Homo sapiens: one gene and its partner. The protein of the gene in region 1 purifies or fractionates together with the protein of each later gene. This does not show direct contact. Each region holds a gene or a part of one and is shown on either strand. Other genes may lie near its edges.

The links. Proteins that work in one complex are often made in the same cells at the same time.
Region 2: the proteins of CD40LG (region 1) and HPR purify together in Homo sapiens (affinity purification with western blotting, with the first as the bait; one study listed by BioGRID). This does not show direct contact.

Annotation. Positions count from the first base shown.
Region 1 is NC_000023.11:136,651,158-136,654,657, reverse strand, and holds part of CD40LG (CD40 ligand), read right to left. Parts: intron 286-3,500; coding exon 228-285; intron 1-227. UniProt on the Homo sapiens protein: Cytokine that acts as a ligand to CD40/TNFRSF5. Costimulates T-cell proliferation and cytokine production.
Region 2 is NC_000016.10:72,061,803-72,066,025, reverse strand, and holds the start of HPR (haptoglobin-related protein isoform 1 precursor), read right to left. Parts: upstream 2,801-4,223; 5' UTR 2,771-2,800; coding exon 2,766-2,770; intron 1,270-2,765; exon of another isoform or gene 1,032-1,269; intron 1-1,031. UniProt on the Homo sapiens protein: Primate-specific plasma protein associated with apolipoprotein L-I (apoL-I)-containing high-density lipoprotein (HDL).

The sequences.
Region 1 (3,500 bases):
TATCATCGGCATTAAAGGAACACATCCTTTTTTCATAAATATATATGTACAAAGTCTTTCCAAATCACAGGGACCAGAGAAGGTGTCAATTTGACAATTGTGTTCCTGTTTTATTTCCAGGGCTAAAAGTTCCCTGATGCAACAACACTGGGTTGTTCAATATGATCAGCCTAAAGCTTCCTTTTAGTTTTTAGGCATTCATAGAAATTAGCAAATAGCAAACCTACCTTTTTGCATTTCAAAGCTGTTTTCTTTCTTCGTCTCCTCTTTGTTTAACATTATATCCTAAAATAAGAAGCATTGCAAGAGGTCATTTTGACAGGGGCTCTGCTGTGGGGTTTTAAAATTATCATTCGTTTTGCATCTGTCATTACTCTGTTGTCTGTTTCTGGTGAGGATTATCATATAGACTCAGATCCTGTCATTAATTCCATCATGCCAATTGGGAGTCCATGGATCTGACAGATGAGCCAACAACCCAGAAAGCCCAGGGGAGAATCTGGAAGTAAAATCCAGGCCTTATTATCTCCATTCCAGTGCTCTCTCCAGACCAGAGGCTGTGATCCTGACCCTTCCTATGACCTCAACCTCCTTGGCTTTGACAGATATTGACAAATAATGCCGAATGGGGAGATGATTCTACCCTGGGAACTGGTATATGGAATATTATTAAACATAAAGCATGGTGTGTATCTATTAGAATAAATTTGGTCTGAAATCCTGTAGGAAAAGATAATAGTAAGTTTGACCTTGGGGAGAAATGCCAGACTATGAAAAGACCCTCAGACATTTTTAATTTTGCTATCCCTTTCAATGGGCTGAAGAGATTCTCTTATTGATAGTTGCACTGTATTTACTTAGAATAATCAGCATTTCGGAAACACAGGCCATCTCCCAATGGTGTTGATGTTCAAAGGCAAGTGCGACACTTCTTAAAAGGTTTCTTTTCACTTATAAACTGAAGGAAGTCTAGAGGTATTTAAAGAAGCTAACAGGAACTTCCATCAACACAGGTTGGAAGATGATAAAGGCTGTTGCTGCCATTTTAAAGAGACTGAACAAAAGGCCTGGAGGGCTTAACTGGTCATTATGAGGTCACCCAAAGAAGCTGAGGTTTAAACCAAGAGTGGAAACTGTGAGATGGCATTCATAGGCTGGGCTTAGCTAATTCCATCTGTCTATCCTCTGCACACAAGGGAAGAAGACAGTAGTATTTTCACATCTTATGATAATCAAAGTCCTGTGCTCCTTCCCACTCCTGGAATCAGTTGTCTATAGGACCCTTCCTTTTATTTCCTCCTCCAGAAGGAATTTGTGCTGTCACTGTTGAGTGCTGGCTGTAGGCCCAGCTCAGTTGCCAGATTTAAGGGCGTAGTTCATAGAGCCTCCAGGGGAACCTGAGCCTCAGAACACTCACATGGGCCCCAGAGCTTCAACTTTCCATTTGAGCTGAAGCGCGGCACTATGAAGATGTGGTGACAGGAAAATGTTTGTGAGATCACAAGTAAACAAATGACTATTTAGTGTCTTTTCAAAAAGTAGAGTGTGGTGATCAAGGTTGAGATACTTTTAGGCTAAGTTGTTGCATTGGTGTTGAGGCCTGGCCAAGATGAAAACATGAAGTCAGCAAAGCTCGTGTTTCATGAGCCCAGCCTAGCCTTTCCGTGAACTTTCGCCCAACCACACTCCCCAGAGCCTTTTTTTTTTCTTGCTTCACTCCCCACCTCAACTGAAATACTTTTTAAAGTGGACTTTCAGAAAATCCAGAATGGGTTATTTCTCTCTTAGTGGGAGTTCCATGTGGCAGGTATGGACAGGTTGCCCTTTAACTTGAAATAGAAATGCTTTGGCTCTCTCAAAGGCATCGCAGGCATTGGTGGGCAAATAATCATGGAACTGAACATCTAGCAGAGGTGTGGTGGGTTGTAAGTTTTAATATGAAATTATACTATTCAAAATAATACCTCTGCTTACCCTCACTTGAGCCCTGAATACCATCTTTCCCCCAAAATGACAGATTAGTGCTACCTGCCTCCAGAGATAATGAGTTCCTTGTCACTAGAGATGTTCAAACAGAGATTGGATGACCACTTAGTCAGGAGGTGGAGAGAAGACTGAAGTTGTGGATTGAGAATTGGATCTGATGACTTCTAAGACCCCATCAAGACCTGATTCAAAGACTCCAAATTCAAACTTGAGGTTGCTTAGGTGCAGCCAGACTGTGGCCCGGAAAGAAAGCCTACTAACATTAGCTAAGAAAATATGAATCTAATCTGGAGCTATTCTATAATTGTCCTATTGAGTTTTTTCAAAGTCTCGAATTTTGTTTTAGGGTGAGAAATTTGGGGGAAAGCGTATTGGAAAGGGGATCCGTCATTGGGGGAGGATTGGGTAGCTGGAGGACTTTGTATCTACTCATTGTACGTAATCCTAGGTATAGGTGGTGTTGACTAGGGTTCCACACCTGCTGCAGTAGAGACAAGGAGCCTCCTTAGTTGCATGTAAGGAGGAGATCCCTGGGGCCCTGGCTGACATGCCTGAGAAGATCTGCCTTTTAAGAATATGAAACTTTGGAGCTGTCACTTTTTTCATACAAGCATAAGCAGGGAGGCCAAACTGACTGTTTTCTTTACTCCTATCCTCGGTAGCTGATTTTGGGAGCTTTACATACATAGCCAACCTGAAATAATGACGTGAGGAATTGACAATTCAACCGTAAAAGTCTCCGTAAGAAACGAGGGGGACTGACAAGCCACTCTCACTGCCATTGGAGGGAACTGAAGGCTTATCACATAATTGTAGAATGTCAGAGCTGATAGTGCCCTTACAGATAATCTGTCTTCTCATGTTATAGATGACAAAACTGAGGCCCAGAAAGGTGAAGTTATTTACCCAAAGTCACATAGCCAAGCACATTCAGTCTGTTATTTGGATTATTAGCCATTGTTTTGAAAGTGCCTTTATTCACATTTAAACTGGTAACATCTTCCAATACTCTGTAATACTGGCCCAAATCCTCGAAGAACCGAAGAAACTCAAATCATTTTCCTAGCTGGCCAGTCTTGCAAAGAAAGGGTTTAGGAGTTTCATCTAAAGCCTAGATTAGTGTAAAGAACCTGAAAGCAAGCAGCGGATTTGAGCCACATTCTGTTCTCCGTAGGTGACTCAGGAATAAGCTGTTAGAGTCTTCACTAATGAATTAAATGGCACCTCGGTGACAGTACAGGAGGGCAGAAATAAGATCAGAAATAAGATCTTAACCCTTTTACGCCTGCATTAAATTACACATCATCTATATGTGAGAACTAATTCCTGTTGGTTTACCCAGATACCCACCCACCTGGCCCAGAACTGTCCTCAATGTGGAGTGCTGCCTCCTAGAAATGACCCCTAAGTGAGCCGAGGCCCAAGGGTATTTGACTCAGTGTTCTGAAAGGGACATAGGCAGAAAGAACTCTTGATGTTCTGCCTCAGGAGAAAGAGCCCCTAGACCCTATGTC
Region 2 (4,223 bases), on another chromosome or scaffold:
TGAACAGGCTCTTGGGACGACTGCCCCTGAGAGTCAGGGTTGTAAGCGGGAGGAACATCATGAGTTGGGGAAGAATCTGGGATGGGATCTGGGGCAGCAGCAGCTGCCTGAGGAGTAGGGGGGTTAGGATTGGGGCAGTAAGCAAAGGAAGACAGTCTAGGGGATCCCATGTGCTGACTTTAGGTGTGGGAGTCGGCTTGTCTGACTTCTCAATTTGAGATGCTGGATCGGATTCTTCCCTAGTTGTCTTTAAGGGAAAGAGGAGGACAGGTCCCTGCTTCCAACAAAGAGCATAGTCTAGTTCTTCTTGAGAAACCAGACTTTTATCATTAACATATTGGATTAGGAGTTGACTCATTACACCCTCATTCGACCCATACTTTGGCCAGAAGATTGAGGGTTTGAGGATGGGACCTTGGGTCCAAATGAAACAGCAATATTTTATCATTTGCTCCTTCTTCTTATGCTTAGTCCTCTCATTATCTTTCCAGTATTTTAACATGAAACCTAGGGGACTATCAAGGGGTATATCCTTGTTACTATTTTCATCCTTCTTATTCTCTGTCTTTCTTGGGGTATTTCCCATATTGGGTCTTAGCTAGGCTCAATCCCTCATATTAGGGATTTGTTGCCTGCTGGAGGCTTGCTGTGGCTCAGTTCCTCATATTAGGAATTTCTTTTTTATCTGTCTGGAGCTTTCTGTGGCTCAATCCCTCGTATTAGAGATTTCTTGCCTATCTTTTAGCCCCACCTCCTGGAGGTTCTTCACACTCTTCTCCTTTTGCTTCATCCACTCTGGCCACTTTCCTCCTAGGAATATTTTAAGTCCCGCTTAGCATTGGGAGGACTATATAAACCCCAACATCAGGATCCTTCAGAGAAGGCTAAGCCGTATGAGGTAACCATAGACCCACAGATTGGACTCATTCACTCCACACAGCAGTAGCACTTGTTACCATTCATGAACTTTCAGCCACCAGAATATAGTGACCACCAAGGAAGTACTTTGTCACTCCTGCGACATTTCTTACCTTGGTCTGCGCACAGAGTTACCTGGCCACCATAGTGTTGCAAGTCTTTTTCTCCCCACGTTGTTGAGAGTCTGGGGTTATTCATCAGACCAGGTGGGTCTCGATTCCTTACTCATGAGGCCACTGCAACAAGGCAGTGGGATGTGTCTCCTCACAAGAGGTGATCAAAGACCCTTTCCCGGAGGACAATGTTTTCCCTGTATGGGCCACCAAATTTGTTGGAAACAAATGCTCGGTGCTGCAAAGAAGAACCAACACTGAGCCAAAGGACAAAGGGTCTCTCAGCAAGGCAAATTTACTTTTGCAGAATAGAGCTCCTGGTAAGTCTGGTTGCCACGAGAGCACCCTAAACAAAGGAAAGCAGAGGTTTTTATGTCTAACGCAGCTTGTCCCTGCTACTGTGTCCTGACTCCATTGGCTGGAGTTGGACTGCACAATCCGAACCCGGTTGGCTAACTTGCAAAGTGCAGGAATGTGGTTGCACTGGTGGGAAGGCGGGAAGATCAGTTTTGGTGGGAGAGGCTATTGCGACGGGAGAGGTAAATCACAGAGTGGGTAGCAGATGTGGAATGTGGGCTGTATGGGTAAGGACTGGCAGGAAGGTTGTTTACCAGGGTAGGGGAAACACAGAGAGTAAGGAAGTCTGGCCTTGAAAGCAGGAAACAAAGGACAAGGAAACTTAAGCAGGCTAAACTTTTGAAGAAGAATTTCTTACTGTATTTAACAATAATTTTAAACACTTATGTGGTTATTTCTAGTATTTTGTGATAATTCACCTTTAGGAAATGGTATCTCAAACCCCAAAATGCCAGAAGGTTACCTGGAAGAGAACTGGTGTCTGAAAGCAGGACGGTGGCCATGGGCATTGACACACAGGCGCCATCTGCCAGTTCACCATCTCGCTAACAGACGCCCACCATTCAGGCACTATTTGCTTCTATTAAAATAGTTTCTAGGCAGGGTGCGGTGGCTCACACCTGTAATCCCAACACTTTGGGAGGCCGAGACAGGTGGATCACGAGGTCAAGAGATCGAGATCATCCGGGCCAACATGGTGAACCACATCGCTACTAAAAATACAAAAATTAGCTGGGCGTGGTGGCACACGCCTGTAGTCCTAGCTACTTGGGAGGCTGAGGCAGGAGAATTGCTTGAACCGGGGAGGGGGAGGTTGCGATGAGCTGAGATCGCGCCACTCACTCCATCCTGGTGACAGAGTGAGACTCTGTCTCACAAAAAAAAAAGTTTCTAGTCTTATTATTTCAACATTTCAAAAAGTCTTTTTATTTTTTAAGATCTAAGTGTCTTAATTAGATGTATCCCAGGTACTAGTGTGTATCCCAAGTACTAGTCAATTAATTGTGTCATTCAAATGTGTTACTATTAGTCTTTCTTATTATACATTTTTAAAGAGGAAAATATCTGCTAGTAAATATATTCCGAATGCCAGGAAGCCTACCACGGGAGCTGATGACATACCCTACAAAGACAAAAACGTAACCTCAAGGAAAAAGACACTCCTGAGAGTAAATCTTATCTCCTGGGAAAGACAGCAGCACTGTCTTCTATGGATGCAGAAAAGGAGAAGATTTAACACACTAAGCCCTTTGGTTCACTATAATTTAGCCCATTTGCCCTGTTTCTTTGTTCTATTTCTGCATCTGTACCAATGTATGCAAAAAAGACTGAAATAAAGAACCAGAGGAAAGGCAGGAGGGAAAGCTGTGGACCCACCTCATCTTGGTTGGTCTTGCCTCTGGAAGAGCAGTGCTGTGGGGCATCTGCTGGTCTTTTTATGCTGCCACTAGCTCACTTCTCCCCCTTCTCCATTTCGTAATTCCTGTGTCTACAAACTTTGGACCTGGTAAGGTCTCTATCTTTTCCAGTAACAAAACTCCAAACATTGCCCCTGTTAAGAGTTGAGCTCTTGCTTCACACTTGATTTTCCCGTGGTGTTCTTTTTTGTTTTTTGTTTTTTTTGAGACAGAGTTTCACTCCTGTTGCCCAGGCTGGAGTACAATGGCATGATCTCAGCTCACCACAACTTCTACCTCCGAGGTTCAAGCAATTCTCCTGCCTCAGCCTCCCGAGTAGCTGGGATTACAGGCATATATCACCATGCCTGGCTAATTTTTTGTATTTTTAGTAGAGACGAGGTTTCTCCATGTTGCTCTGGCTGATCTCAAACTCCCACCCTCAAGTGATCCACCCGCCTTAGCCTCCCAAAGTGTTGAGATTACAGGTGTGAGCCATCACGCCCAGCCCCCTCGTGAGGGCTTTTGATCGTCTTTCTCTCACATCTTGATTTGTATTTTTGATCCTATCTTAGTTTCTTTCCATTCCACAAGTATTTGTTAAGTGCCTGCTGTATGCCCCATCCTATGCTCACAGCTACGTAAGTACAGATGGCTCCTTAGAGGAGGCAGTGCCTGCATGTTGAAGGCGGGTAGGAGGTGCTAATACAGCAAGGGGAAGGGAATTTCAGCAGAGGGCCCCCGAGGAAATAAAGCCCAAGAACTGGAGACGGCCGGGCTTGTCAGAGAGCAACATGGAGTTTGGTGTTGCTGAAGCCCACAGGCTGAGGCCAGGAGATGTTGCTAGGGAGGAAGGCAGAGAAGATGAGTGATCAAGAGAATGCCAGAGCTTTTCTCTTACCATTATTTTACCAGAAGCCACTTACTTAATACAATCAGACAATTCTTTAAGAAAACTGGGGAGTAGCTTGTTCTTCCAGGAAACTTGGTGCTGAAGAGAACTACCAGAGGAAAAGGTGTAAGTGACTGTGTTCTGAGAGGCATTTTTTTAAGAGTTTGACTGTTATTTTCCAGTTTCTGGCTATTACTTCTTTCACAGGTTCTAGAATATAAGTGTGCATCTTATTGGCCTACTGGCGCTAACCTGTTGAAGTTTATTGATGAATCTGCAGGGTGCCTGTGAGGAGAGCTTCACAGAGATGGCCAGACCTTGGTGAGAGAGAGTGACATCAGTGTCGTTTTACACCCTACAAAGGAGGGGCCGTATTTTGGCATGAGAAGAAGGTGCACTGGTGATTGGTGGTATTGAAAGCTTATAGCAAGAAAAAGTTCTGTTAGAAGAGCTTCTGTTTCTCAGAGTTCCAGAACCTTTCTTCTGGGAGACCCTTAATAGCATGACCTGCCATCAGGAGAGGAGGCTCAGACAGCCTGCATTTGA